Homo sapiens: one gene and its partner. The protein of the gene in region 2 purifies or fractionates together with the protein of the main gene of each other region. This does not show direct contact. Each region holds a gene or a part of one and is shown on either strand. Other genes may lie near its edges.

What was found. Proteins that work in one complex are often made in the same cells at the same time.
Region 1: the proteins of GAL3ST1 (region 2) and NDUFA3 purify together in Homo sapiens (affinity purification with mass spectrometry; 3 studies listed by BioGRID and IntAct, with this or other methods). This does not show direct contact.

What each region holds. Positions count from the first base shown.
Region 1 is NC_000019.10:54,101,207-54,104,953, reverse strand, and holds the start of NDUFA3 (NADH dehydrogenase [ubiquinone] 1 alpha subcomplex subunit 3), read right to left. Parts: upstream 2,100-3,747; 5' UTR 2,076-2,099; coding exon 2,066-2,075; intron 1,841-2,065; coding exon 1,766-1,840; intron 1-1,765. UniProt on the Homo sapiens protein: Accessory subunit of the mitochondrial membrane respiratory chain NADH dehydrogenase (Complex I), that is believed not to be involved in catalysis. Complex I functions in the transfer of electrons from NADH to the respiratory chain.
Region 2 is NC_000022.11:30,554,100-30,557,777, forward strand, and holds the end of GAL3ST1 (galactosylceramide sulfotransferase), read right to left. Parts: intron 3,303-3,678; coding exon of another isoform or gene 3,294-3,302; coding exon 3,163-3,293; intron 1,998-3,162; coding exon of another isoform or gene 1,995-1,997; coding exon 854-1,994; 3' UTR 536-853; downstream 1-535. UniProt on the Homo sapiens protein: Catalyzes the transfer of a sulfate group to position 3 of non-reducing beta-galactosyl residues in glycerolipids and sphingolipids, therefore participates in the biosynthesis of sulfoglycolipids.

The sequences.
Region 1 (3,747 bases), on a different chromosome or scaffold from region 2:
CCAGCCTGACCAATATGATGAAACCCCGTCTCTACTGAAAATACAAAAACAGCCAGGTGTAGTGGCATGCGCCTGTAATCCCAGCTACTAAGGAGGCTGAGACAGGAGAATCGCTTGAACCCGGGAGGCGGAGGTTGCAGTGAGCCGAGATCAGGCCATTGCACTCTAGCCTGGACAAAAGCGAAACTCCGTCTCAAAAAAACAAAAACAAACAAACAAAAAAAACCATAGTACATCCAAAACATCACTTCGCCATGTAATCAACAAAAGATTATTGGTAGTTTACACACTCTGTTATACTAAGTTTTTGAAATCCAGTGTCTTATACCACCTCAATTCATACCAGCACCACTTCAAATGCTCAGTGGCCAGTTGTGGCTGGTGGCTGCCATACTGAATAAGTGTTCAGAACCTTAACCTAGTGCCTGGCTGGTGGACCAGCAGTACTGACAAGACCTGGGAACTCTTCAAAAATGCAGAATCCCATGCCCCACCCCAGACCTACAGAATCAGAACCTACAGTTTGGCCGGGCGCAGTGGCTCACCCCTGTAATCCCAGCACTTTGGGAAGGCAGATCACTTGCGGTCAGGAGTTCAAGACCAGCCTGGCCAACATGGTGAAACCTTGTCTCTACTAAAAATACAAAAATTAGCCGGGCGTGGTGGTGCTCGCCTGTAATCCCAGCTACTTGGGAGGCGGAGGCAGGAGAATCACTTGAACCCTAGAGGCGGAGGTTGCAGTGAGCCATGATCAAACCATTGCACTGTAGCCTGGAAGACAGAGCGAGACGCCATCTCAAAAAAAAAAAAAAAAAAAAGCTGGCCGGGCGCGGTGGCTCACGCCTGTAATCCCAGCACTTTGGGAGACCGAGTTGGGAGGATCACGAGGTTAGGAGATCGAGACCATCCTGGCTAACACGGTGAAACCCCGTCTCTATTGAACATACAAAAAATTAGCCGGGCATGGGGGCGGGCGCCTGTAGTCCCAGCTACTCGGGAGGCTGAGGCAGGAGAATGGCGTGAACCCGGAAGGCGGGGCTTGCACTGAACCGAGATCGCGCCACTGCACTCCAGCCTGGGCGACAGAGCGAGACTCAGTCTCAAAAACAAAAACAAAAAATTAGCTGGGCGCCTGTAATCCCAGCTACTCGGGAGGCTGAGGCAGGAGAATCCCTTGAACCCAGGAGGCCGAGGTTGCAGTGAGCCGGGATCGCGCCACTGCACTTCAGCCTGGGTGAGAGTGAGACTCCATCGCAAAAAAAAAAGCTACATTTTAACAATCCCCCGCCCCCATCCCTGCAGGAACTCCGGTGCTAATTAAAGTGTGAGTAGGGCAGTTCCAGGGCAGAGGGCAGAGATTTTCAATCAGCAAGGCACATTGGGATCATACGGGGATTTTCACAAGACACAGATTCCCCAGTCCCACCTCCACCCAAGCCAACTCAATTCAGAATGGGGGAGAGGAAAGATGAAAAGGAGGAGGAGGATCTGGACTTTTTTTTGGTGCTCAGGTGTTAAGGCATAAGCAGGGTTGAGAACGTCTCATTTAGAGGGGTTAAGAGCGTATTGGGTAGGTGGAGAGGAACGCGGGGGGCGATGGTGGAGAGGTTATAATGGGTATGGGGATAGATAAGGGGATGCCGTGGGGGTGCAGACACACTAGAGGGGACCCGAGGGCGGCGATAGGGCTTTAGGGGTACAAGATGGAGGGATGTAGGGGGACGGGGGTGGACGATGCAAGTTTGCGCCTGGAGCACTCACGCACCGAGGCCCCCGACGACGAAGGACACGACCAGCACTGGCTCCTTGTCCCAGGCATTCTTGAGGAAGGCGCCGACTCCTGAAGGGGTGGCAAGAAGCGTCACCCCTGCAAGTAGCTGCCCCCGGTGACCTCTAACCCTCTCGTGCCACCCCTGCCCTGGAGGAGCCCCCTCGTGACTTCTGCGTTCCCCTCCAGCACGGACCCCATCGCTTCCACCCCTGCCCTGCCGCACCTCAGTCCCAGGACCGCCCAGAGGTTCCCAGAACTACCCGAGCCCCGTGCGCCACCGGCACCTGCACTTACTCGCAGCCATCTTTGTCTCCGCGGCGGCGACAGCGGCGAGGACGCGGAGCACCCTGGGAGTTGTGGTCCCTATGCGCGAGAACCCGCTCCCAGGGCTGCGCGTGCGCCCTGGAGCACAAGTAGAGGCGAAAGCAAGGACGCGGAGCACTCTGGGAGTTGTGGTCCCTCTGTGCGACGGCCCGCTTTCGGAGCCTGCGCGTGCGCACTCGCGCAGAACAAAGATGGAGCCGTGGAGGTAAAGGAAGTGGTGTCAGGAGCAAGCGCAAGCCTGACTTTGCGGACCTGCGTGGAATCTCCTTAGTCTCAGCCTAGAAGTCGCTCCGGAGTGACTAGTCCTCCTGCTGCGACCCACCTAAGGCGGAACAAAATAGTCCCCATTTTATAGTTTATGTATGAAAGCCCATTTTACAGACGAAGAAACTGAGCCCGGGAGAAGGTGAATGACTAACCTGTCCTTCGAGGTCTCAGCTCAACATCGGCTCGTCCTGGAAGCGCTAGGTCTCATCCCAGATGGGTTAGGAGCTTTCTGCGGGCTCTCACAGTGCTCTGTTACCGCCATTATAGCTCAGATCACTTAAGAAACTGACCTGGTCTGGGCCAGGCGCGGTGGCTCACGCCTGTAATCCCAGCACTTTGGGAGGCCGAGGCGGGCGGATCACGAGGTCAGGAGATCTAGACCATCCTGGCTAACATGGTGAAACCCTGTCTCTACTTAAAAATACAACACAAATTAGCCGGGCGTGGTGGTGGGCGCCCGTAGTCCCAGCTACTGGGGAGGCTAAGGCAGGAGAATGGCGTGAACCCGGGAGGCGGAGCTTGCAGTGAGCCGAGATCACACCACTGCACTCCAGCCTGGGCGACAGAGCGAGACTCCGTCTCAAAAAAAAAGAAACTGACCTGGTCTTGGTCTTTCAGTCGGACTGGTAGCTGCTGCTTGAGAGCAGTAACGGAGTCTGAGTTCCCTCTGTGCCTGCCAACATGGCACAGCGAGGGTCTGGCACGTAATAGGTTCTAATTTTTTTTTTTTTCTTCTGAGATTGAGTCTAGCTCTGTCGCCCAGGCTGGAGTGCAATGGCGCGATCTCGGCTCACAGCAACCTCCGACTCCCGAGTTCAAGCGATTCTCCTGCCTCAGCCTCCTGAATAGCTGGGATTACAGGCGCGCGCCTCCACAGCCGGCTAATTTTTCTTTTTTAGGAGAGACGGGGGTTTCTCCATGTTGGTCAGGCTGGTCTCGAACTTCCCGACCTCAGGTGATCCACCCGCCTTGGCCTCCCAAAGTGCTGGGATTACAGGCGTGAACAACCGCGCCCGGCCTAGAGGGGCTAATTTTTATCTATCTATCTATCTAACACAGTATCACACCAAGAGCCTGGCACATAATAGGTGCTAATTTTTCTCTGTCAACCAATCTATCAATCGATCAATTAATCACAGCAAGGGCCTGGCACATAATTGGTGTTAATTTTTATCTATCCATCAATCAATCACAGCAAGGGCCTGGCACTTAACAGGTGCTAATTTTTATCTATCTATCTATCTATCTATCTATCTATCTATCCATCCATCCATCTATCTATCTTTCAATCACAGCAAGGGCCTGGCACATAATAGGTGCAAATTTTTATCTATCTGTCAATCAATGACAGCAAGAGTCTGGCACATAATAGGTTCTTATTTTTA
Region 2 (3,678 bases):
CCCACCCCTGCCACCTCCCTGTCTCTTCCTCCCTCTCTCTCTCTCTCTCTATTCTGATCCGGCCACACCCTCTACCCGCCCAGCCCCCTACTCTAGTCCTACCACTTGCTGTGTGATCTTGGTGAAGTGATTGTCCCTCTCTGAGCACCCTTCATTGTCTCTAGCATGAGACAATAACAGTCCCCAGGTCGCTGAGTTTTGGTGAAGATGGGTTGAGATAATGCCCTTAGCCTAGTGCCGGGCACACAGTCAGAGTGAGTAACTGTTGTACTCTGTTGTACTCCTTAGGATGATCACACACACATGCACACATGCACACACGTGCACACAAGCGCACACATACACACGCGCTTTTCCAGGCCTTGGTAGCTCATGGGAGTCCCTGAACCATATAGAACTATAGCATATAGCAAATAACACATCAAATCCCTGCCACCCCATTGGGCTCTGCCCACAGACTCACCCAGGCACCACTGTGGTCTCTTGGGTTCCCCCCACCCCAACCCCCACCCCAAGTCACCACCACTGAGGCTGATTAACAAAAACACAACATCAAATTCCTTTACTTCTGAGGTCTCCCCTTTAAGGGGAGGCAGAAATAGAACATTCTTTATCGGGGAGGGAAAGGGGTTTAATAAAAACTGGTATAATTAGTTAAATACTGATCTCGGTTAGGCCCTCTCTGTGTTCATGGGCCCAGTCTTGGCTGGCTGCCTCCCCCCAGGGAGCCCCCCCTCACCCCGGGGTCTGAGGTGGCACCAGGAGGGGGCTGGGGGCGGCCAGCACCAGCGGCGTCCTGCTCAGCCCCTCTGCAGGGAGCGAGCAGGCAGGCAAGCCGCTGGGCGGTGGGACGTCACCACCGCAGGAAATCGCGAATGAACTTCCAGAGCTTGGTGACCCACAGGTTGGCGCCGAGGTCCATCAGGTACTGGATCTCGGGCGTGAGCATGCGCCGGCAGAGCTGCGCGTGCCGCTGCCCGATGCTCTTCTTGAGGTTGTAGCCCAGGATGGACTTGGTGCCCAGCGGCTGCCAGGGCTGCATGGCCTCGTCCTGGATGGCGGCGGCGTCCACGGCGTGGCCCCCGTCGATGCAGATGGTCCGCATGCGCTCGTTGGCATGGCGCAGGGCGGCCACCTCGCGGGCCATGCGCTCCCGCCCGAAGGCCTCCACCTTGCGCCAGAAGCTGGCGTTGAAGTGGCGGTAGAGGTGGGAGTCCAGCATGTTCCAGGCGGTGGCGCGCCCATACAGCTCCCCCGAGAGCCGCGGCACGGGCGAGTCGCGGCGGGCGTTGAGCTTGAAGTAGAGCACGTCCTCCAGCTCCCAGCACAGCAGGTCCTTCAGCAGCACCAGCGACTCGTCGAAGTACTCTTGAAGGAGCACCAGGTGGAAGCGACGCTCCACCTCCAGGATGTGCTCCTGCACCTGCGGGCTGCTGGGGTCCAGGCTGTTGTCATAGCCCAGGTCGAAGAAGAGCAGGTTTCGGAGGTAGTGGGCATTGAAGCCGTTGGGGTCGTAGTAGCGATCCGGGTCTTGCAGGAACTCGGTCAGCTTGTCGCCGGCCGAGAGCTTCCACGTGAGGGGCACCACCGGCCCGAAGTAGTGGAAGGAGGACTCGAACAAGCGGGCGGGGTCGCGGAGCACCGTGATGAAGATGGCGTTGGTCGGCACCAGGCCGCGCACCTCGTCGTAGTGGAAGCGCATGTGGTTGCAGATGATGTTGAAGCAGGCCCCGGGCCGATAGTCCTGCACCAGGCTGCGGGCGAAGAAGGTCGGGTAGTCGAAGTCATTGCGGCCGTTAGGGAAGGCGAACTTGAGCCGGTGCTTCTGGCCGAAGCGGAACAGGATGTTGAGCAGGGTGCTGCTGGCCGTCTTGTGCGTCTTCAAGAACACGATGTTGCGCCGCGGCTGGCACTCCCCCGCCGAGCCGTTGGCCCGGATCACTGCCTCTGGCTCGAGTGCAGGTGGAGAGCAGGACGCTGCGGCCTCCGGGGTCCTGCTGGGGACAGAGAGGTGGGGAGAGCCTCAGGGGGGTGCTGGGGCCCTCAGGACTCTGGTAGTTAGAGAGGGAGATTATTGGGAACAGTGGTGGCAAAGGAGCTGGGATAGTGAGACCTGTGGGGCCTGAGTCCAGGCTGGGTGCCTGCGCGGGTGGTTTGGCCTCTCTAGCCTCATGTTCCTCTTCTGTGAAATGGGGACGATAACAGGCCCTATTCACGGTGTTGTGAGATGAGGCACACAGGCTCTCCTCTCATTCATGGCCACTGTGTTGCATGTACCATGAATCAGTATCAGCTTGGGCCACATGAAACTGCCATTTTATAGGACAAAAATGGTCCATTTTTGCAGAAATTTGCAGTTTCCTCTGTGTCAAGTTAATATCACCAACCACTGGTATTGCACCAGCTACAGGCTGTGCTGGGTCTGTGCAGAGCAGCCCCATGAGGAAACGGGAGAGCCTGGTTCTCAGGAGCTGGGCCTGGAGTCAGACCGACCCGTTTGAATCCATGCCCATGGACAGGTCGCCCCCACCAGGGCCCCGTTGGCATCTCAGATGATGCAAATCTGAGCCCTGTACAGACAGTGTTACCTGATTCTCATGCTCTATGAGGAAGGCTCTGGGTTTTTTTTGTTTGTTTGTTTTTCTTTTTGTTTTGAGACAGTCTCACTCCGTTGGCCCAGCCTGGAGTACAGTGGTGCCATCTCGGCTCACTGCAACTTCTGCCTTCCGGGTTCAAGCAATTCTCCTGCCTCAGACTCCCAAGTAGCTGAGATTACAGACACACACCACCATGCCCAGCTAATTTTTGTATTTTTAGTAGAGATGGGGTTTCACCATGTTGGCCAGGCTGGTCTCGAACTCCTGACCTCAGACGATCTGCCCGCCTGGGCCTCCCAAAGTGCTAGGATTACAGGCGTGAGTTGCCGTGCCCAGCCGAAAGGCTCTGTTTTTATCCCCACTTCACAGATGGGCACACCAAGGCTCAGAGTTACACGGCGAGCTCTGCCATCAGTGGAATTTCTGTCTGGCACAGCATGGTGCAGGGTGCAGGGTGGCTACCCAAGATCACTGGGGCAGGCCCTGTGGTAATTACAGGGCCCCATGGGTGGGGTGCCATCCCTCCCCCACCTACACCCATCATCTGCCCAGCTGGGCCACTCACGTGGAGGCCAGGCCGGCATGCAGCGGGGGCACGGCATAGGAGTACACCAGCAGCAGGAAACTAGTGAAGAGCGCGCCCAGCACCAGCCCCTTAGCCATGGACTCCCAGGGCTTCTTCTGCGGTGGCAGCATCTCAGACACCTGCAGGGGCAGCACAGAGTAGGGCAAGTGTCAGGAAGCTGGCCCCAGGGAGCCCCCAAGGCTGCCCAGGCCTGGCAGTTGAGCCCTGCCTTTGCCTGCTCTGTGGCCCCCCAGCAGGGTCCAGACAGGGACAGAGAGGCACTGGAGAGATAGACTGACAACCACCTGGAAAGAGACAGCCCCAGGGTTGCAGAGACGGTGGGTGAAGCAACTCAAAGAGAGGTTGGGGAATGGGGCAGGGAGAAGGTTAAAATTTAAAAATTAAAATGAACCGGGTAGAGAACCAGGGCCCCAAACTTTCCACTCCTTTTAATTTTTAAGCTGGCTGATAAGAAATAAAAGAAAAAGAAACAGAAGAAAAAATGAGACAACTAAT